7 linked regions of the Homo sapiens genome follow. The protein of the gene in region 7 purifies or fractionates together with the protein of the main gene of each other region. This does not show direct contact. Each region holds a gene or a part of one and is shown on either strand. Other genes may lie near its edges.

Evidence for each region.
Region 1: the proteins of TFAP4 (region 7) and NR2F6 purify together in Homo sapiens (affinity purification with mass spectrometry, with the first as the bait; one large-scale study listed by BioGRID). This does not show direct contact.
Region 2: the proteins of TFAP4 (region 7) and TRIB2 purify together in Homo sapiens (affinity purification with mass spectrometry; 2 studies listed by BioGRID and IntAct, with this or other methods). This does not show direct contact.
Region 3: the proteins of TFAP4 (region 7) and UBN2 purify together in Homo sapiens (affinity purification with mass spectrometry; 2 studies listed by BioGRID and IntAct, with this or other methods). This does not show direct contact.
Region 4: the proteins of TFAP4 (region 7) and EHMT1 purify together in Homo sapiens (affinity purification with mass spectrometry, with the first as the bait; one large-scale study listed by BioGRID). This does not show direct contact.
Region 5: the proteins of TFAP4 (region 7) and SP3 purify together in Homo sapiens (affinity purification with mass spectrometry, with the first as the bait; one large-scale study listed by BioGRID). This does not show direct contact.
Region 6: the proteins of TFAP4 (region 7) and MTCL3 purify together in Homo sapiens (affinity purification with mass spectrometry, with the first as the bait; one large-scale study listed by BioGRID). This does not show direct contact.

What each region holds. Positions count from the first base shown.
Region 1 is NC_000019.10:17,243,120-17,247,115, reverse strand, and holds the start of NR2F6 (nuclear receptor subfamily 2 group F member 6), read left to right. Parts: upstream 1-1,196; 5' UTR 1,197-1,895; coding exon 1,896-2,173; intron 2,174-3,996. UniProt on the Homo sapiens protein: Transcription factor predominantly involved in transcriptional repression.
Region 2 is NC_000002.12:12,719,936-12,723,435, reverse strand, and holds part of TRIB2 (tribbles homolog 2), read right to left. Parts: intron 177-3,500; coding exon 1-176.
Region 3 is NC_000007.14:139,304,237-139,306,486, forward strand, and holds part of UBN2 (ubinuclein-2), read left to right. Parts: 3' UTR 1-2,250.
Region 4 is NC_000009.12:137,834,316-137,836,627, reverse strand, and holds the end of EHMT1 (histone-lysine N-methyltransferase EHMT1), read right to left. Parts: intron 2,280-2,312; coding exon 2,104-2,279; intron 1,856-2,103; coding exon 1,675-1,855; 3' UTR 501-1,674; downstream 1-500. UniProt on the Homo sapiens protein: Histone methyltransferase that specifically mono- and dimethylates 'Lys-9' of histone H3 (H3K9me1 and H3K9me2, respectively) in euchromatin.
Region 5 is NC_000002.12:173,909,874-173,913,373, forward strand, and holds part of SP3 (transcription factor Sp3), read right to left. Parts: intron 3,394-3,500; coding exon 3,197-3,393; intron 385-3,196; coding exon 68-384; 3' UTR 1-67. UniProt on the Homo sapiens protein: Transcriptional factor that can act as an activator or repressor depending on isoform and/or post-translational modifications. Binds to GT and GC boxes promoter elements. Competes with SP1 for the GC-box promoters.
Region 6 is NC_000006.12:127,477,836-127,481,335, forward strand, and holds part of MTCL3 (microtubule cross-linking factor 3 precursor), read right to left. Parts: intron 1-3,500.
Region 7 is NC_000016.10:4,266,524-4,270,023, forward strand, and holds part of TFAP4 (transcription factor AP-4), read right to left. Parts: intron 1,682-3,500; exon of another isoform or gene 1,525-1,681; intron 408-1,524; exon of another isoform or gene 1-407.

The sequences.
Region 1 (3,996 bases), on a different chromosome or scaffold from region 7:
GCAGAAGGCACTGTCCTGGCCAGAGCTCTCAGAGGCCCAGCTGCATGCTCTGGTGTCCAGCTCTGGGCTCAGGGCGGGGTGGGACCACAGTCTGGGTGGCTGGGGCTGCAAGACTCCGAGGTGAAAGGTCACTCCTGGAAGGGCTTGTCCAGCCGGTTAAAGGTTAACCTGCCCAGAGCCAGAGGCTCGCCAGCCCGGGCCTCGCATACAAAGGGTGCTTAATAAATGCTGGTCGGGCGGGCCCCAGCCCCGGTACTGGGGGATGGGGTGAGTTGGAGGTGGCGGCAGCTGCGAGGCTCCAGGGCGCCTGGAAGAGACATCTGCAGTCCAGCCGGCCGCCAGGCCAAGCCCTTTCTGCAAAGCACAGAAAGAAAAGGAAATTAAAAGGGAAAAAGGGGCAGGCCCCCAGACAGGGCATGCCTGTCGCCTCCAGCCGCGCGGGGCGGGTGGGCGCCCTGCCCCCGGAGGCCAGAAATTCTGCAGAGGGGCCCCCTGACCTCGCGGCCCCGGCCAGCCGGTCTCAGACCACAACATCCCTTCCCCCTGGAGATTCCGGGCACCAGGTGTTAACCCGAGCAGAGAAAGGGTGGGGTGGGGGTCAGACGCGGCGACTTTCTGGAAGAGGAAGCAAACACAATCTAGGGTGTGTGTGTGTGTGTGTGTGTGTGTGTGTGTGTGTGTGTCTGTCTGTCTCGCGCGCGCGTGTGTCTTGCGCAGGGGCGTACCCCCCCCCCGGGTGCCACTGGCCCCCCATCATTGCTTTGCCAGGAACTGTGGGGTGGGGAGAGGTTCCGAGGGGCGCCTCGAGGGTGATCGAGCGACCCAACGTCCAAGGCCAGAGGTGGAGGGGAGGGCCTTGGAGAGACATCTTGGCGAGGCTCAAGGAAGGGCAGAGGGCAGGCGCGGCTGAGGCTCCCGCCGCGGCCCGGCAGGGGTTAAGGCCCGAGCTGGGCGAGGGCGAGGGCGGGGGTGCGGGGGGAGGGGCAGAGGGAGGCGGGGGAGGGTCAGGCCCCGCGGCCCAGCGCTCGGCCCCCGTCCCTCCCGCCGGCCCGTTCGCCCGGCGCCGCGCGCGGCCACCCATGCCCTTATAAGGGCGGCCGTCGCCGGGGCAACGAGCGCCCGCCCCCAGCCCGCGGCGCGCGCCCCTGCCCCCGCCCCCGCCCCCCGCCCGCCCCGCGAATGGAACGCTGTGTGTCAAACCGGCCGCAGCGCGAGGCCGGCGCGCGGGGTCGGTGGCGGTGGCGGCGGCGAGAGCGAGGCTTGGGCCCAGGCGCAGGCCCAGGCCAGGCAGGAGCGGCCGCAGCGGGGGCGGCAGCTCCAGAGGCGCCGGCCCAGCGGCCCTGCAGGCCCGGAGCGGCAGCCGCGGGCGCCGGGGGACCCAGGGGGCGCGGCGATCAGCCCCGGCGCGCACCCGCCGCCCCTCCCCCCCCGCCACGGGCGGCCGCGCAACTTGCGGCCAAACTTTCCCCCCGGCCTCCCGCGCTCGGATGGCGGCCCGCTGAGTTGGCCGCAGCCCCCGGGCGAGCGGCGGCCAGGCCAGAGGACGCCCCCTGCGCGGCTCGGGCCGGGCCATGGCCCGCGCGCCCCCGCCGGGGCCCCAGGGCGGCGGGACGCGAGTCCTCTGGGCCCCCGGCCCGCGCCTCTAGCGTGCCCCTCCCGGCCCCGGGCCCGGCCCCGCGCACGCGTGGGAAAGTTGGCCTGGAACCGGCCCGACCAGTTCCGCCCGGGCGCGAGGACCGGCCGCAGGAAGTTGCTGCAAAACTTTTTTGGGGGGTGCAGCCCGTGCCCCCCGCGCGCCGGGGCCGAATGCGCGCCGCGTAGGGTCCCCCGGGCCGAGAGGGGTGCCCGGAGGGAAGAGCGCGGTGGGGGCGCCCCGGCCCCGCTGCCCTGGGGCTATGGCCATGGTGACCGGCGGCTGGGGCGGCCCCGGCGGCGACACGAACGGCGTGGACAAGGCGGGCGGCTACCCGCGCGCGGCCGAGGACGACTCGGCCTCGCCCCCCGGTGCCGCCAGCGACGCCGAGCCGGGCGACGAGGAGCGGCCGGGGCTGCAGGTGGACTGCGTGGTGTGCGGGGACAAGTCGAGCGGCAAGCATTACGGTGTCTTCACCTGCGAGGGCTGCAAGAGCTTTTTCAAGCGAAGCATCCGCCGCAACCTCAGCTACACCTGCCGGTGAGCCCCCCATCCGCGCGCCGCCGCCGTGCACCCCGCCCCGACCTGGGGCAGGCCTCTGACCTGCTCGGTCACCTTGGGCCTGGCGCTGACCTTCCCTGGGCCTCCACTGCCCCCTCTGAGATAGGGGCACAGCACCCTCCTCCCGCATTCCATGGCTGGGATTGTGTATACAGTCGGCGCTACATCGTTGCAGGTTCCCCCCCCATCAGGTGGTCCCTGGAGGCTTTTGCCCCAGTTACTTGCTTCTCCTTCCCTCCGCTTTTTCTCTGGGGAGGGGTCATCTCCGCGCTGGGGTGGGGGTAGGGGTGCTGTCAGGGGTGGTAACCCAACCCCAGGGCACCCGTTCTCGGGGATCCCGGCGCGCGGGATGCCCTCGAGGGAATCGAACGTGGAACTTGGACCGTGGAGCTCGCAGCGTCCAGGGGCCATTGTCTGCGGCCGCGCGGATCGATACGGCGCGCCCTTGGGGTCAAATATCACTTCCAAAGTCGCTGTGGCTACGGAGGCGGCAGACGGAGGGAGGCTGGGGTGGCACGGGGCGGCCTTCTTCGCATGAGGGGCCCAGCGGTGGGGGTGGGGGTGGGAGCTGGGCTTGCCCATCTCAGGGAACCCCTCTGGGCTCACTCTGGGCCTTGGGTCACCGGAAATCGCCACTGGAAGGCCGGCAGGGCCACCGGAATTGACTGAAACGTCCCTCTCCCCCAGGGGTGGGTGCAGACCTGGGGCTCCTGGAAAAATCCCTCAAACTTTGGGTGTCTCTGAGACGGGCAGGGAGTGAAACGTTTCCGAGCAGGAGCCTTGGGCTGTCCCAGGTCGGAGACCTCTCTGGCAGGGCGTGGCCTTGCTAGCTGTTCTGGCGGAAGGTCCCCAGGGAAAGCGATCGGGGTTGTCCAGCCCGGGAGTTCTTTTCTCACCGTTCCCGGGCGAGCATCCGATCTGTCCGTTTATAAGCCCCTACTCTGCACCCCAGGAACATGCAGGGTCTCTGTGGAGCCCGTCTAGACGGTCTCAGTTCCCAGCTGCCCAAAACAGAGGCCCAAAGGCCCAGAGAGAGGTCCTGGTGCCTGCTTTGCGTTGGACATGGAGGGACGCTGCCCGAGTTGGGGGCACTGTGGGGGAACTGTGGGGCTAGGGTGGGGACCGCTGAGTTCGGATCGGAGTGGCCCCAGGGAGAACGGCTGATGGAAGGCTTGTTGGCTGAGGCCACCAAATAGGGCCCCAGGTACCCGAGGGTGGAGTTTGGCCCCAGGTCCCGGGTCAGGGCTGGCCTGGTGTGGCCATGTGTGGCAGAGCTGCCTTGCTCCCTCCTCCAGCACAAAGTGGGCCACTAGACTTTGGCCTCATTCTTGCTGCTGGAAAACCGCCTGCTCTCTGGTCATATCTTTAGGGAGGGTAAGGGAGGGGGGCTCAGGCAGTTTTGGGGTCCCAGGAGCTTCCTGAGGGTGGTGTCAGGGAGCAGCAATTTTGGGTGGGGGGGGCCTTGCTTGGAGCTGACAGGTTTGTGCTGTGTCAGTTGTGTGACCTGGTGAAATCACCATTCCATTCTGAGCTTCAAATGGATTGAGCAGGGTCTCGCTGGGGCCCAGCCTGGGTAGTTTGATGCCAGCCCCTCCAGAGAGACCCCAGCTCCAAGTCTAGCTCCTGAGAAGCCCCCAGTCTGGAGGAGACACAGTGAGACAGATGCCCCAAGTCTGTGGGATCTGGGGTCCCAGGGAGAGAGCAGAGGCTCTGCCTGGAGGTCAGAGAGGGCTGCCTGGAGGAGGCTAGGGGACATGAGCCTTGAAGCATGGAGTTGGCAGGTGGAAGAAAGGCCACAGGGA
Region 2 (3,500 bases), on a different chromosome or scaffold from region 7:
TCTCTCAGCTTCTTGCAGGTGCGGACGAAGGAATGCATGTCCCCATAGCTTCGCTCAAAGAACACATAGGCTTTGGTCTCACCCAGGATAATTTCAGTGATTTGGTTGATGTTACTATGAGCAGACAGGCAAAAGCACGGTGCCAGGGATTCCTGGTAGCAGCTGATATCAAACACCTACGACAGGATTAACAGTAAGACCAAAGTCAGAGGTGCCTCTTGTACAACCAAAACACATAATGCTGCACCTCCCACAGGTATGGGCTTTTGAGATGACAGAAAATATGCTGAACTTGGACCCAGACCACATTGGCCCTGCCTCCTACCAGCTGTGTGGCACTAAACAAGTCACTTAACCTCTCGGAGCCTCCAAATCTTTACGTACAACATGGGAAACTGATACTTGACTCACAGTGTTAGGAGGATTATATGAGAAAATGAAGGTGATAGTGCTTTGCAAAACGTAATGCAGTACAGAAATAATAATTTTCATTACTTTTGTCTCTAGCCCAATTGCGTGTTTATAGAACTAAGGCAAAATTGGAGAGAAAGTGATCCACCTCAATGACATCAACAACACTTTATTTGCCTTCAAAAATAAAAAAAAAGAAATGCACATAAACAGGCATTATACAACACATGAGCAACTAAGAGAATAAACAGCTAGCTTTTGCCCAGTGGTCTCTAATTCAATACTTTCATTTTACAGATATGGAAACTGAGGCTCAGAGAATGAGCCAAAACTCAAGCCCCCAGTGGCAGAGGTAGGAATATGATAGAATCCTTCTGAATAGGGAAGCAGCCTTGCTTCTTCCTCTCTTCCCTCCACAGATATCTAACTCAATGAACCAGTTATGCAATGATTTTCTATGAATCAAAATTAGCCTGCAAAATGCCAACTCATTGTGCGGTTGCTTAAAAAGAAAAGGCACCATCAATACCTTTTGAAACAGACCTAACAGCAATTAACACTACAGAGAATTTTTGAGGTTATATAAAAGGCGCTTTCATTCATTTCAAGACCTCCACTAAATCAGGAATACAAGTCCCTGGGTCTGGAATGTGGTTTTTCTATCTGCCTGGGATGTGGGTAAGATGAATCTATTCAGTGTGTGCGTGAGCCAGGGGCATGCGTGGGTGAGCTTCGCTGGAAAGCATCTGAGGCAGGAACGCCCTAACAATACACTGCATGCTATCAGTTCACAATGATTTAGCTGCCTAAATCGCTTTTTCACTAGTTAGACATACTTTCTTTCATCATCATTTTGCAGTGTGGTAGGAAATATGCTGGACTGGAAGTCGGCAACCTTGAGGCACTAATCCTGGCCCTGCCACCAATAATCTGGATGAGATGGATAAAGAGCTTAGGGTTACTGGACCTCCCTCCTCTTCATAAAATGAAGATGTTGATTTAGAACAGTGTTAACCTTTTTTGGGTCCTGATGTCACATAAAATCTGATAAAAGCTCTGTTCCCTCTTAGCTGACAATGCCCGTTCTCAAATGCATGCACGATACCGGATTCATTTTAAGGGGATTCACGGGCTTTCTGAAGCCCATCCAAAGCCACAGACTGCTATTTAAGAATCCATGAGTTAAGTTGCTCTAAGCTTCAAAAAATTGAAACAAAATCTGTGAGTCAAACAGGGATGTAAAACCTCAAGAGTTGCTGCTAACACGGCCAAGGAAGCAAAGTTAACAGTAATGTTGTGAATGAACCATAACGAGGCATCTCAGAAAAGCGGCACAGCTGCTGCCACTATAACCTAGAATTTAAGAAAGAATACTTCAACATCTCCAGAGACCACAAATCACACACTGATACTGTCAAATGATGACCCAAGAGCAGTGACCTAAGAGGCCTGTTCAATTAGGAATCTGAAATGCTTGAATCAACTTTAACACCCTGAATGCAGGCAACAGAAACCCAGGGAAGCCTCAAAAATTTCGAGGAGTAATAAGCTTTGCAGTGGCTAACGTAAACACTGCATCATATAATGAAGATGCTGTGTTCTGAAATACCAGGTTGCAGCTTCTGTCGCCAGTGCTCACAGAGTTATGATTATTTATAATCTACTTCCTGTTTCCAGGTGCATTTACAAAAACATAAAAGGTGACTTTTGCTCAGCACTTTTAGCCTATTATCCTGCTCCACTGCTGAAAAACTGGAGACAGAATTTTTAAAAAACTAACATATTTGTGGCAGCTTCAAATGTAGCCATACCTTTTGTAGAAGAGACCAAATTCCAAGATGGTGGACAGAGTATGAAAAATAAAATAAGTACTTATGTTTTCCCACACGAGAAGGAGCCAAACTTTTATTAGTAGCTATCAGGGGCATTTAGGGGCTTGGACTGGTATTTAAACCATCATCTTCACGTGCAAAATCAAGCCACAAGCCTGGTGCCAGCTTCTTTACATGTTTAATTTGGAGCCTTGGTTATGTAATGTGACAGTTCAGATAAGGCAGTAAGATTAGGCCATCATTAATAACATTTGCAAAAAAAAAGTACCCATTCTGCCAAGATAGTAATTATGTCAATCTGCACAGTAGCTACCAGTATCTCCATGAAAACATACAGTTAAAGACTCCTTAAAGTGCCTTCATTCATCTAGCAAAAGTAGGTACATGGAGACAATAAGCAGCCTTGATTATTTTGTTTAAATGACTCTGGAATCTCTATTCCTCCAAATAGTGTCCTATGGAATTCTCTACGCAGTCCCCTATAATAAATAGCATCTTTACATTTGATCTGTTTTTGCAAAGAATTTTTTCATTGGTCAACACACAGCTAGGAAACATGAGCCTTCTATTCTAAGACATCAAAAGGAACTAGATTCAATGTGTAGATTTCACTGAGCCTTAAAGTAAGCTAAGAGACCACAGCATATATATCTCTCAGGGCAGTTCAGAGAAGCAGCCTTATAAAACTCTCTTGGAGCTTCTTCGGAGATACACAACTATGCTTGCATAAGAAGTCACCCACATCATCTATGGTAAAAAGTCAGGAAAACAGAAGCTGCTGTGTCTTAAAGGGATGACCTCTGTCAAGCAGAACAATGATACTGCACTTAAATCCACTTGCAGCCACACTGTAATTGGTGAGGGGCTGATTCAATCTTTGCAATAACTAAACCAGCAGATTAAGTCCAATTTGAGGCCAGAGCACAAGTCTGCAAATGACACTGTAAGGTCAGCCCAAAGTGAAATATGTCTTGCAAAATCTGGAGAAAGAATGAGCAGAGGCCAGAGTCACCTCTGATTTTAAACAAAGAAGTAACAGCCAGATGCCCCTGCAGAATTTGGCTGCAGAGTCCCTATACTTAAAAGCATCTCCAGCCTTTGAAAAATATTAAAATGCTGTACTGAAGTTGAGCAAAAGGAATGAAAATATTCACTGCTGGGTGATTGTGCATATTTCATACAAGAGTGGCAGTTCTGTGGAATTCATTCATTTCAAAGGATGACTATCCTATTGTGCAACCTTGCAGACTTCTGAGA
Region 3 (2,250 bases), on a different chromosome or scaffold from region 7:
CCATGAAAGAGGTGGAGCCATCAGCTGCTCAGGTTGTAAGAAAATGGGAGACGGAAGGCAGGATTCACTTTCTAACTGGGTCGGGGTGGGGAAGGTCAGGGTAGAAGGAAACATGTTTTCCCCAGCTCCCAGGAGGAGACGAAGATCATTTTATCCCACCTTCCATCCCTGTATATTAAGTAGTACTACTACATAGAATTTTCCCGTTATCGTTTAAAATAATAGCAACAGGAAAAGAAAAATGGATGCTGCAGTTTTAGTTGGGGCTAAATGCTGAGCAACGATTGTTGGAGTGTGTGTGTAAATTTAAATTGTAGCACATATTCAGGGTCAGGAAAGCAAAATGTTGGGGATGAGGAACCAGTGTTACCAGGTTCAAGTGAGTTAGTAGAAAGCACCAGGTCCAAGCAGACAAAGCATCTGGTTAATTTCCAGAATTGGCTAAGGTCCACTGAATCTCTAATGATAGGGTGTGTGTGTGTGTGTGTGTGTGTGTGTGTGTGTCTGTAAGTCACTTTTTGGATTTTTGTTGCTTTTTCCAGATAAGGCCTTAGTAGCCTCTAAATATCAACTATGCAGATAAACATACTCCTTTTTTTTTTCACATGTCCCTGTCTTTTCCATTCTCAGATAACAAATGTTAAGACCCAAAGAAATAAGGCATAAGGGTTTTTGTTGAATGTGTGTTTGTTCTTCTAGGGAAAATTAACAGAAGCATAAAATAGAGATACTTTGTGTGTTCATCTATCGTAAAATGTGAACTCTGTATTCAAAAACTATCTACAGATGCTTTCACTGGTGCAAAGCTGTAGTTAGTATCATGGAATGTCTTTGGGTTGTTAATGATAAAATCATCCCAGTGTTCAATTCTGAGAGTTTTAGATTATATGACACAATGTTCAGGTTTATAGAGCTGAATGGGTGATCAAACTCTAATTAAAAATAGCTTTGAATATTAATGTTGAATTCTTCTTTCTTGGTTTCCTTTAGTCTTCATTCTTTATTCAGAGCTCTTAATCATATTGCTACACTAGAATATGAATTGTATATTAGGAGTCTGGGGAGGAAAGGTTAAATTGTCTTTTACATCCTCTTCTCACTCACTCTGGCAACCTATCCTGTGTCCCCATAGAACTGAGAAGTAAAGCCCTGTGCAGGCCTGCTTTAGAAGACTTTACATCCCAGCAGAGGATTCAGGCAGGGACTCTCAGGATTTTAATCAGACTGCCTTTGAATAATGTGATATTAAATTTTATTTTTCTCATAGACTCTCAAAGTACCACTTGCTTGAAAGTAGCTACTTGTGATCTTTAATTTCCTTATATTGTGATAGTTCTACTTTTCAGTCTTTCCTGTGTATCTCCATTTCATAGTGCGTTAGTACTTAAACTTCGGACACTTTTCCAAACTGTTAAACAAGTCAGGAATGCTTTTCAGAATCGCAGTAGTATTATTAGGGTCTCTGTGTCTAGGACTTACAGTCATCAGTGGTCATCACTGGGACTAGAGGTGTTCTTTTTTTTCCTCTTCTCCTTTGTATTAAAAAATAGATTTTGCTACTGTATAATGCGGCATTTCATGACTTCCTCTTGTTACTTTTCAAGGTTATTCTAAAGAGATGGAGATCTTCATTAGAGGCTATTTCTCATAATAGTCTGCCTTGCTTATTTTCATACTCCCCCTGAAATAAGCCTACTTTTGCAAACAGGCCATATGAATCAAATTTTATGTTTGTTCCTCACAAAATTTTCTACACATTATTTGTTCCCACTTTGCTAATAATAATATAATGATTTTATTGTAAATCTGTGTTTTAAATATTTTATAACAGAGCACTAATGGAAACCTAATAAATACAAACAAGATAACTATTACCCAAGATAACATGGAAATACTTCTGTTTTTGAAGTTAACAACACCGTCTGCCCTCAAAGCACATTTAGGAGTATCAACCAAGACCAGCCAGTTGACATGTTTTTCTGTGTGGCAACCTGCCCTTAAATTGTCAGATCTTAACTATCTTGTGTTTGCTGTGCTTGCAGCCATAAGCTTTCCTCCTTTTTTGCTTATCCCTGCTGTTTGTAGGGTTAGTGTGCCCTCTGTCAGAAAATTGGGTTTTCTTTACTATACCTGCAAAATTACCAAGGGTTACCCCAATATTGTCTAGAGGAATTAAAAAGAACTTATTCTCAGTTGACAAAAGTATTACTGTTATACATAGTTAATTGGAAAGTTGGCCAACTTTGGTCA
Region 4 (2,312 bases), on a different chromosome or scaffold from region 7:
GAGGCCAGTCAGCATGGAGAACATAGCAGGCTGGAGGCTTTGGGTCTAGGGGTCCCCGTAGAGGAGTGGGGGTCATGGCTGGCAGGAAGTAGGACGGGCTCTGGCTCTCCCTTGTCCGGCCTCGCTGTTCAAGTGCAGCTCTGCCTCTGGTTGTGGGACTCACCTGATGTGCCCTGTCGGCTTCCAGAATGACGCCCAGAGCTGGGCACCTGGCGCTAGACACAGACATGCAAACACACACACACACACACACACACCAGTGTGCCCGCATTCGCACCACGTGCACGATGCATTCGTGGACACACACAGACTCATTCGACACGTGCGCAAATGCACAGGCTCCCCTAACCTCTGCCTGGAACGTCCCCTCTTCGGGGACAGATCTGGGGTGAAAAGGAAGCTGTACTTCCTTGGACAGGGGACAGAGAGCTGGGCCGGGTCCAGGGGGACCTGCAAGTTCTGCAGAGACCCTGAAATATGGTGTCATAATAAAAACCCCATTTAAAGTACTTCTTTTTTTTTATTGATTTCATTGGAAACAGAACAAGAAATGGTCAGAGCCAAAAGACTGCTCTTAAAACTGTCAAAAACATTTTAACAGAAAAAAATAAACATGACTGCATTATGAATGTTTTTAGAAGAGTTGCACAAAAAAAACCCCACTGTTACTGCACTAATTACAGTCTTTAAAAAGGTATATGCCAAAAAAAAGTATATGACCTGCCAGGCCACCACACAAAAGGTGATGGCAAATTTATTCACGCTACAAGACTAACATCTTTAAAAAAGTTTTTCCTGCATTTTATTCTAAAATCACTTTGTTCTCTTTATACAGTTGATAGTTTATTTCACGTGGTGAGTAGAAACCACACCAGAATCAGCACCGTTGTCTGTGTTTTGTTTTTTATTTTGTGTTTGTCCTAATGTTCAGTAATGGTAGAAAATAAATCAGTTTATTCATCATAGCATGTGGCTTAAAAAATCAACAGAAGGTGCCAGCGTCAACGGAACCGGCGGGGGCTGCACCCACCAAGCCACTTCCTCGAAAAGAAACGTCAGTTAGAGGTTTGATATATAGGACTAGATATAGGATTCCTTTAAAAAGCAAACCCACATTTTCTCCAAAGTTAGTGGTGGGGTCGGTCTCCTGACCTCTCCGAGCCTGACAGGAGACTGTGCCCTCCGTGCGGCCCCTGGGACTCGGCCCCAGCCACGCAGGCCGTGGGCAGGGCGAACGGAGCAGCTCGCGCTAACGGTGGCTTCGGCGGCGCCACACAGAAGAGTCTGGGCCGGACAGGAGAACAGAGCAACCCCGTGGTGCAGCGGGGACCTCGGAGGTCAGAGGAAGAAACGAGAAACTTCGCAACGACAAATCAGCATCAGAAACTCAGAAGGTGATGCCAGTGCGGACTCCCAGCGTCTCTGGCGCGCGGACCAAAGTGTGCGCTCCAGCCTGGGCACTGGGCCCGCGGTGAGGCCGCAGGTCTGGGAAGGTGGCTGGGAGGCATCCACACCCGCCCGCAGGGGCTGCAGCCTCACCTCCGACCCCTCCAGGAAGCCGGCGGCGCAGCCCCGAAGGACCCTTTCGGTTGCGTGCGGAATCTCTCCTCCTCGTCCTCTAATCGGCGACGCGGCGGTCCCTGGCTCCCGAGCGCCCCGCTGGCCGGCGGCGTCTCATAGGGGGTCGGCGGCAGCCGCGGAGCTGGTGTCGGGCAAGCCGTCCTCCTGGGCCTCCTGGGCCGCGCTGGCCTGACGCTGGGCCAGGGCCGCGCTCGAGTGCCGGCACTTGGGGGAGCCGCAGCGGCAGCTGAAGAGCTTGCCTTTGATGTCCCAGAAGCGCTCTCCATAGTCAAACCTGGGGAGGGAACAGAACCAAGGCTCCAAGTCGAATCCCACCGGCACCTCCCACAAGCCAGATAAATTAAGGCAAGGCCAAAGCTTCCTCACCCCGATCTGCCGTGCCGCATCCCAGGTCGCAGTTTTTAGAACTACAGGAAAACCACTAGCATAAACCCGAGACAAGCCCAGGAAAGCAATGCGAGCCCCGTTCCTAAAACCGTCCCGCCGGCAGCGGAGATGGCCAGGGGCCGGGGCGGTGCGTACCCGAGCTGCTCGCCGGCCTCGATCAGGCGGGTGCTGAAGAAGGCGATCCGGGGGAACCGCAGGTCCTGGTGGGCCATGAACACGCGCACGGGCACCAGGTTGGGCTCGCAGTGGTGGTTGATGAACCGGCTGACGTTCCCGTAGAACCGCGCGTCGATGCAGTAAACCTCCCCGTCCTGCAGGGCGAGAAGCCGGCACGGGCTGCAGTT
Region 5 (3,500 bases), on a different chromosome or scaffold from region 7:
CTTAGGAACAATATTCTTCTCACTACTGTATAAAAATAACCACAATGAATAAGTATTTGTGTAATATTTACTCCATTGTCTCATTTCCAGAAACTGTGACAAGCTGTAAAGGTATTTCAGTGTTGGTAAGGATATCTTGATTGCTGGTGGCGGAAGTATTAACAGTTCCTATCCCTGAAACAGAACCTTGTTGAATATTTGCAAGGATAAGCGTTGTTCCTCCTGCAGTAATCAAAGTATCATCTCGCGCAGCTTCCACAGATGCCAGCACTGTACTGCTAGAGTGAATACCTTTTTTATTCTGGTGTGTTTTAATATGTTTGGCAAGGTGGTCACTTCTCATAAAGCGTTTTGAACATTCTGGACAAACAAATTTCTTCTCACCTGTTAAGAAAAAAATTAAGTTACTTGGTTTTAAAAATTCAACTTTAATAGCTCAATCATCTCCCCCAAAACAGAAAGTAAGTCAACGCTGACAGGTGAGGATGGGAGCAGGGGTCTATTAAAATTGTATTCATTTTACGAGCTACCCCTGCCAGATTTCTCTTACAGAATATTTCTCCTTAAATCTTTCATCTTTACTTTTTGATGACTAGCAGTCTTCAAACATGTATTATATAATAGATGGATATTCAAATAAGACTTTAATATCTCAACTACGCTAAGAGTTTGTTTGAAATACCTGTGTTAAGATGCCAGCTAAAAAATAAGCATCTATAACACACTTTAAAGTCTAAATAAAAGTATATTCTTTCACGCTATAATTAAAATACTAACATGCCATGTTCATGATACTAAACCTTCAACTCTTAAATATGAATTAAAGCAACAGGGTACTTCTAGATTAAAGAAATGACACCACAAGCTTGAGATCCAAAAAGAATGAGTAATCCTTAGAAAAATGAATCTGGCTAGCTGACTTGACTTCAGCTACAACAATCAAGAACAAGCCTAATATGTTAAGATGTTAAAGCTGTTAAAATCCTGATGCCTAAATTTATTTCCCAGCATGAATAAAGTAAGTTTAAATACAAAAGACAGACTGAACTTCTATTATGTTGAAGACCGACTCTGCAAGATTACCAAAAGAGAAGACAAAAGGCCAACCTAAAAGGAATTCAGAGAGAAATCAATAAAAATCAATCAATAAATCTAGTAAATATTTTCTTAATTCCTTTCTTCAAAAATGTCTTAGCTTGTATCCTTTGTTCTAGCACCTCTACTCTACATAGGTCTTTATCAGACCTCATGCTTGAACTATACTGCAGTCACATCCTAGTCTCTCTCTCTCTCCAGACTATCTTCCTTAAAGACCAAATTTTATTACATCAGAAAACTTCAAGATTATATTAAGTGATATGGAAATGCAAGGGTAACTTGCAGATGACGTAACAGTTTAGATGCTCCACTGCCTAATTTACAAGGACCTTTAAAGTGTGCCTCAATCCTACTTAACAGAAATGTTATGTAAAATCTCATCCTCATTCACCGCTACAAAAAAAGGTCTCTCACTTCTTCTATTAACATACCACCATTTTTCTACTAAAGTATTTCCCAGTTTCTCTTGTAACATTAGTCCTGAGAGGTACTCCATGGCAAACGGCACAAGGTTAGGAAATGCTACACACACATTACATCACTAACTTATAGATGCAAGCTGTCAATCTAGCATTTAATTTAAAGGTCCTAAGAGGTACTGCCTTGAAGGTACTTATACCCTCTTTGGCCCACTATTTCCTACACTTATTTGATCATTGACCTTTTTCTCCCTTTTACATTATTCCTTTTTACAACCTGCTGATAAAATCCTACTGAGGAAAATTCTGTTAACAGGGCCATCATAAGATCTATTATCCCATACTTTACTATCCCAAGCAGTAATTATCTCTGTTTCTGAGCCTTTTCAACAGCAGACTGCAACGCAAAATCTTTTATCTACCTTTTTTTTTTTTTTTTTTTTTTTGAGACAGGATCTCACTTTGTCACCCAGGCTGCAGTACAGTGGCATGACCTTGGCTCACTGCAACCGCCGCCCCATGGGCTCAAGCAATCCTCCCACCTCAGCCTCCTGAGCAGCTGGGACTACAGGTACACACCATCCGCCCGGCTATTCTTTGTCTTTCTAGGAGAGACACGGTTTCACCATGTTGCCCAGGCTGGTCTCAAACTCCTGAGGCTCAAGCAATCTGCCTTCCTTGGCCTCCCAAAGTGCCGGGATTACAGGCATGGGCCAGCACGCCCTGCAGCCTTATCTACTTTCTTAATTGTCTGTTGCAGTTTCATGTAGGTTAATCTCATCTGTCTACCTACCCAATGAGAGACAGGAACTAAAACTATTAGAGCATCTGTATACTACTACAGACTTCATAGGTAATTTTATACAATACTGAAGGCCAAAGTAGGATATGTGAAGCAACGTCAGAGATAGTTTATTCGCTTAACCTAATAGGGAACTTGGATTGGAATCCAGATGACTTCAAAATCCATGTTGTTCTCCATTTTACCATGCTTCTTCCAAGCTCTCTAGGGATTGTAAATACATAGTTTTCAATTCTCCAGTGTTGAGCATAGACTGATGAACACTTTAATCATTTACATGGTAGTAGGAAAAAACTATCTCTAAGTTAACACTGTTAGGTTTCAGTGTAGATCAGTCACAGGTCCATTTCATTTAACAACCACACAACACTATGTAAAAATAATATAATCAGAGAAAGTCTTCACATCAACATTGCCTTGGTTATTCCTCAGTGAAATACCTTTCCCTTACCTCAGAGATACTAAAAACAAAAGAAAAGGTGAAATGCCCAAATATGTCAGAAGAAACAGGAGTATTTTTTGTTACAGTGTTAAGAGGAAAGAAAAAAAATAGGATAGATCAAGAGTAAAAGCTGACAACTAATTAAAAATGTTAACAGAATAAAAATAGTATAAATGTGGTTTAAAGCATTCAATAATGTCAACAAAAGCCACCCAAAGTCTACTTAAATATAACTTTATTTTAGAAGATAAGCCAGACTGACTTGTTCTTTGGAATTTGTGTTATTAAGATGGTGTTACTAAAGGTAAAAATTGGATGTAATTCATTGTATTTTAAATCGATTCAGTTCAGTAAGGAATGCTAATAAAAAAGAAGTCAAGGCAGTTATGTAGCCCTATAATTCATTTTTGTCTGTTAAAAGTAAGTATTAGTAACCTGTATGTGTTCTTCTGTGCCTCTGTAATTCATCACTTCGAGTAAATCTTTTACCACAGTACATCCAGTTACAAACAAAAGGGCGTTCTCCAGAATGCCAACGCAGATGAGCTCTCAGATGTGAGGTCTTCCCATAGACTTTACCACATCCTGGTATATGACAAATGTGTTGCTTCTTTTTCCCAAGATTGGTACCTCTAAAAAACACACATAGAATAATATATACTTATATGAAAATATTCAAATGGACATTACCATTTACATCATATATCCCCATGTTGAATTTTAAATAGAAGACATTATC
Region 6 (3,500 bases), on a different chromosome or scaffold from region 7:
GGAGATTTATTAACATTGCAGTGCACAAGTTAATAAGTGACAGAGCACAGTCTATATTCTGGCTGAGTCCCAAACTCATATTCCTTCCACTGCACATGCTGCCTCTAGAAAAGAAGCATAAAAGAAAAAAAAATAGAGCAATGTGGTAAAATCAAAGAAGTAAGATGTGTTGCCTTGTACACTTTCCTCTAGGAGAGGTTTAGAAGAAAGAAGAGAAGGACTACCAGAAGAGATGAGAGAGCCTTAGCAGCATCCAGAGAGGAGAAGAGGGCATGTCATGGAAAGCTTTGATGGAAGATTTTTTGAGGATGAGACCAAGGACATGTTACAATGTTTTGGATCACATCAGCAGAGGAATCAAAGATGACCCTGAATTTTTGAGTTGAGGGGTCTCATTGGATTGTATGGCCAATAGCAAGGATAGAGAATGAATAAAGAGGAGCATTCCATTTAGATCGCTTTCAAAATAGGATGTACTCCCATCAATCTAAAATGGATAAAGTTGGTTCTGCCTGCTGAAAGGACAGTGGAATGAAACTTACAGAAGTTCTTCTCAAACATTCTCACGACATTCTCATGACAACCTCAAAGCCCAGTCATTAACTAAATTGAAAAGTACAAAAGGAGAAATGGAAATGGTTTTGGGTGAAGAATGTGGGTTTAAGGTTTTAAGAATGCTGTCTGTGAGGTGTTCCAGTGGAGGGATACAGGGTGGAAACATCCATCAACAGTCATGTAGAATCTCAGGCTCATGATTAGATTACTAAGATTACAGCTTGGCACTTAGAGCTCAGGTCTAGAAGTGAGGACGTGTGGATGAGATGTGTAGAGGTGATGGTTGAACCTATCATAATGGTCACAGACACAACCAATGAGGAGAAGAAAAGAAAGGGAGACATATGGCCAGGCGCGGTCACTCATGCCTGTAATCCTAGCACTTTGGGAGGCTGAGGTGGGTGGATCACAAGGTCAGGAGCTCGAAACCAGCCTGGCTAATAGGGTGAAACCCCATCTCTATTAAAAATACAAAAATTAGCTGGGCATGGTGGCATGCGCCTGTAGTCCCAGCTGCTCGGGAGGCTGAGGGAGGAGAATTGCTTGAACCCCGGAGGCAGAGGTTGCAGTAAGCCGAGATTGCGCCACTGCACTCCAGCCTGGGTGACAGAGAGAGACTCCATCTAAAAAAAAAAAAAAAAAAAAAAAAGAGAAAGGGGGAGACAGGTAAGAAATAGTCAAAGGTTTGGGAGGGGAAATCTAAGGTCATGTAGGCCAATAATTAGAAACAATGTTTGAACAGAAACATGACCAAAAATGATATGCTAAACAAGGGGTGGATTATTCATGCCTCCCCATTTTAGACCATGTAGGGTAACTTCCTGATGTTGTCATGGCATTTGTAAGCTGTCATGGCACTGGTGGGATTGTAGCAGTGAAGACGACCAGAGGTCACTCTCGTTGCCATCTTGGTTTTGGTGAGTTTTAGCTGGCTTTTTTACTGGAACGCATTTTATCAGCACAAATAAATGTCAAATATGCTTTTACATAGGCTAGGTTTTATTTGACATGCAAGAGTAGATGAGACTGGGAAGCCAGGTAGGGTTGCATATGTGGTGGAAGTCCTTGATTGCAAGGCAAGGCCTTTATTTGCTAGTATAGTTGGCATATACTGCAAATTGAATCTAACCAAAACAGCAGTGGGTGTGATACAAGGCACACACTGAAGCAGAATAACACTTCACTGGGTTATATTAAGCAAATAAAAAAGAGAATATCTGATTTGTGTGTATGTAAGCGCTCCTGCCCAAAGGAATGAAAACAACAATTATTTTAACACTTGGACATAGACTGAATATAATAGAGTCATTAGGAGGGAAAGAGCTGCATCAAGGGCTAATGGTCATGGTAATTATTTTATTTATTTAAAAATAAATATTTTCAAGATACAAAATGTGCTAGTTTCTGCAATGCCAAGAGTTTACCACCCTGTATGCCAATATGCCTTGCATCCTGATCTTGTAACCCAACTATTGTAGGCTGCATTGGAAACTTGGCATAGAAATATCATACATAATTATTGATAAAAAAAGGAGATTGTATGCAAAGTGCCTGGTCCACAGTAATTGAGCAGTAAATACTTTCTCCTATTTTCCACAGTGAAAGGTAGGCAAGAAAAATTAAAATGCTCTGAGGTGTGAAGCAAGTTATTTCTTATTTTTGTGTATGTTAAAGACTCACTCAATTGAAGATACAAATTACATGTGAAGAGGGGAACATAAAGATATGATGATGATGAAGGCCAGTAAGAAATGAGCTACTCCTGGCTTTCACTTTAAGAGCCACTACTAGAAACTAAATTGCATTCTAATCGATTACATATATTAACTCATTTAGTTTGTACAACAACTCTCTATTATGATTCCCATTTTATATATGAAGAAATAGAGGCACTAAAAAGAATAAGTAATGGGCCCAAGTTCATACAGCTGGTATATGCCAGAGATTTCAACCTAGGCAGCCTGGCCCTAGAGCTACAGTTCTTAATTGCTGTGCAGTATCATTTCTCTGTAAATAAAGTCACTGTGCTGCTGGAGGAACATGTGAGAAAGAGATCAAAGAAGCTGAAGCAAATTAACAAAATGAAATACAAAGCTAAATGAATAATAGAGAGTTGGACCATATGAAATTGCCACTTCTGTAGATCAAATTCAATAGCATGTTGGCAATTTTGTGTGATTTCGCATAGAAAAAGGAGACATGGGAGTATTTAAAAGCATGTATTGAACATGTGCAGAGTGCCAATCACTAGACACAGATGATTCAAAGCTGAATAAGATGGCTCCTGTCCACAAAAATGCCCTGGCTAAGTAGGAGAGATGAATGCATAAACAAGAATTACAATAGAATGGTATATTTTCAGTAATACAAATATGTGGATCGATGGTTTGCAACCTTGACTGAGCATTGGAATCGTGTTATAATTTTGTAAAAATTGACCATTTTATAATTGAGATATCCCATCAGAGATAGCCTGATCAGTCTCCTGAGGTGGGTTTTTTAAAAGTGACAGGTCATAACCTCTGAAAATAAATGTGTTGGAAATGATAGCAGAAACTTCAAATGCTACAGTATACTTATAAAAAAGGAAGTTTTTGTCCATGAAATAAAAGCTGGTAGATTGCATAGCATCTTGACTTTTTTAAGGTCCCTGACCTCACTGAGAAACTGATTAAAGTTGTGGATGTTTTTGCAGAAAGTTGCCCACATGCATAGTGAGTGGAGGTCCATAAAGCCAAGACTAAACAGTTAAGAATTCCTGCATCAGAGACTATGGTTGAAAAGAATAAATAAACTTTTAACACAGGAAGTGTAAGAATAGGACAAATGTAGATACAGCGTCTACTCCATAAACAAGGTAGGAAAGAAGATTCATGGCAACACGTGAAATGATTCACAACAAAATATTTAGAGTGAGTTGGATAAAGTGACAGCAAAGACAGAGT
Region 7 (3,500 bases):
TGGAATAGGAGCTAACCAGGGGTTGTGATTGGTGGAGTGCCGCTAACCAGGAATTCTTATTGGTGGAATGCTGACCAACCAGGGCTTCTGATGGCTGACCAACCAGGGGTTCCTGTTGATGAAGGATGGTTGATTGAAATTTCCAGGTGATACTGCACTGAATAAAGTGGATTTTTCTGCAAATGCCTGAAAGTTTCTGATAGCTCTTTCTGGGGTTTTGCATTTACGGTTAAGGTCTGTAAACGTCCTACACACACAGTAAAGGTCCACTATCCTCTCTCTGGCCACTTCAGACTCCTCCAGGTGAAAATCAAAGGTGACCCAAGTCCACCAACACCGAGGTTCTCTTTTTTCTTTTGACTGAGTCTCGCTCTATTGCCCAGGCTGGAGTGCAGTGGCACAATCTTGGCTCACTGCAATCTCTACCTCCCGGGTTCAAGCGATTTTCATGCCTCAGCCTCCCAAATAACTGGGATTACAGGCGTGATCCACCAAGCCTGGCTAATTATGGGGGGCGGAGGGGGGGTTGAGATGGAGTCTCGCTCTGTTGCCCAGGCTAGAGTGCAGTAGCACAATCTCAGCTCACTGCAATTTCTACCTCCCGAGTTCAAGCAATTCTCATGCCTCAGCCTCCCGAGTAGCTGGGATTACAGGGACCCACCACCACGCCCGGCTAATTTTTGTATTTTTAGTAGAGATGGGGTTTCACCATGTTGGTCAGGCTGGTCTCGAACTGTTGACCTCAAATGATCCATCCGCCTCGGCCTCCCAAAGTGCTGGGATTATAGGCATGAGCCACCATGCCCAGCCACACCAAGGCTCTCTTGCTTCTTGCAAGCCAGCCTCCTGGGTCCAAACAGGGGCTGCCCTAGATTTAGGAATAAGGTCACTGAGCAGCCAATGGCCAAGGAACAAAATTTGGGCACCAGCCTTGGATGCTAAGGCAAGAGCCGCCACACCTACCACCACAGCACCCACAGAATCTGCTGAGACTGACGCTGGCGTCCCAACCAGACACTTGGAGGCATGGGGCATGCCCTTCAAGTCTAGAACCCTGCCAGGTACCTATCCCTCCTGCCCAGGCCAAAGTCAAGTACCCCCAATCCCTCTACACCTGCCTGCCCAGCTCCAGCCTCAAACCGGCCACTGAGAACTTTCATTTCACACTGCCCTGAAGTCACTCACATACCTCAGGGTCACTTAACATCTACACAGTCAACGTGGGAAAGTCCACACGGGATTCTCCCAAACCCAAAAAAGCACTAAGGCACTCATCCTTCTCTAACCTAATCAGCCCGAGGTTCTCATCCATGCTCCATCCCCGCTGCTTCTACACTACTCACCCATACTCTGTACTCTGACCTGGCCAGTCTGCTGCCCTTCCCCTCGGTCCCAGAACACACCATGCCCAGGCTGTTGCCATCAGAAACATCCCTGCCTCCCTCCCTTCCCCAAAGCTCCTCCAGCCCATCAGTGGGAACCCTGCACTGGGCTCAAGTGAAAAAGTCCAGCCTTGCCACTTACTAGCTGTGCAACACCAAGCCTCGGTTTCCTCCGTCTGTAAAATATGGAAACACTGCTTCACTTCACAGGGTCATGGTGAAGTTTAAAAGAGATCAAGAAAGGCCAGGCACGGTGGCTCATGCCTGTAATCCCAGCACTTTGGGAGGCTAAGGTGGGCAGATCACCTGAGGTCAGAAGTTTCAGACCAGCCAGGCCAAGATGGTGAAACCCCCTCTCTACTAAAAATACAAAAATTAGCCGGGTGTCGTGGGACGTGCCTGTAATCCCAGCTACTCGGGAGGTCGAGGCCCAAGAGTTAGTTTGCACCCAGGTGTCCAGGACAACCCATGAAACTCTTAGGGGGTCTACAAGACCTTTTAAGACCACAAGGCTGTGAGCTGCTGAGGACAGGAGTCACATCCTGTTCATGGCTGTATCCTCAGTCCCGGCAGAATGTTGTTGCTTCATAAATAAATCAGGGACCCAATAAACACTCCAAAGCCTTCAATTTTCTTGAACTCCTTCTTATGGGAGCTTTTTAAGTTTTATTATTTTTTTAATTTATTTTTATTTATTTATTTAGAGGCAGGGTCTCACTCCCGTCACCCAAGCTGGAGTGCAATGGCATGATCTCGGCTTACTGTAGCCTCAACTTCTTGGGCCCAGGTCGTCCTCCTTCCTCAGCCTCCCAAGCAACTGGGAGTATAAGTGCACACCATTCACACCCGGCTAGTTTTTTGTATTTTTAGTAGAAACAGGGTTTCGTCATGTTGCTGAGGCTGGTCTCGAACTCCTGGGCTCAAGTGATCCTCCCGCCTTGGTCTCCCAAAGTGCTAGGGTTACAAGAGTGAGCCACTGCACCCAGTCTTACTGTTTTTTTTAAGAGACAGGGTCTCTGTTACCCAGGCTAGAGTGCAGTGCTATGATCATAGCTCACTGCAATCTCCAATTCCCAGGCTCAAGCCATCCTCCTGCCTCAGCCTCCCAAGGAGCTGAGACTACAGGCACATGCCACCATGCCGGGCTAATTTTTTTATTTTTTGTAGAGGTGGGGTCTTGCTATGTTGCCCAGGCTGGTCTCGAACTCCTGGGCTCAAATGATTTTTTCCCCTTGGCCTTCCAAAGCACTGGGATTACAGGCTTGAGCCACCGAGCCAGGCCTAGGAGCTTTATGATACAGACAGAGGCCAGGCGCGGTGGCTCACGCCTGTAATCCCAACACTTTGGGAGGCCGAGGTGGGCAGATCACGAGGTCAGGAGATCGAGACCATCCTGGCTAACACAGTGAAAGCCTGTCTCTAATTAAAATACAAAAAATTAGCCGGGCGTGGTGGTGGGCGCCTGTAGTCCCAGCTACTCGGGAGGCTGAGGCAGGAGAATGGCGTGAACCCGGGAGGCCGAGCTTGCAGTGAGCCGAGATTGCACCACTGCACTCCAGCCTGGGCGACAGAGCGAGACTCTGCCTCAAAAAAAAAAAAAAAAAAAAAAAGATACAGATGGAGAGTCCGGGCACGGTGGCTCACGTCTGAAATCACAGCACTTTGGGAGGACGAGGCGGGCAGATCATAAGATCAGGAGATCGAGACCATCCTGGCCAAAATGGTGAAACCCCGTCTGTACTAAAAATACAAAAATTAGCCGGCCATGGTGGAGCGGGCCTGTAGTCCCAGTTACTTAGGAGGCTGAGGCAGGAAAATTGCTTGAACCCCGGAGGCAGAAGTTGCAGTGAGCCGAGATTGCGCCACTGCACTCCAGCCTGTGCGACAGAGTGAGAGTCCATCTCAAAACAAACAAACAAACAAACAAACAAAACACAAGATATGGATGGAGACTACCATATACCTGCCCATATACCTGCTTTTAAGACTCAGTGGCTGGGCGCAGTTGCTCATGCCTGTAATCCTAGTACTTTGGGAGGCCAAGGTGGGCAGATCACCTGAGGTCAGGGGTTCGAGACCAGCCTGGCCAACCACTATGGTGAAACCCCATCTCTACTA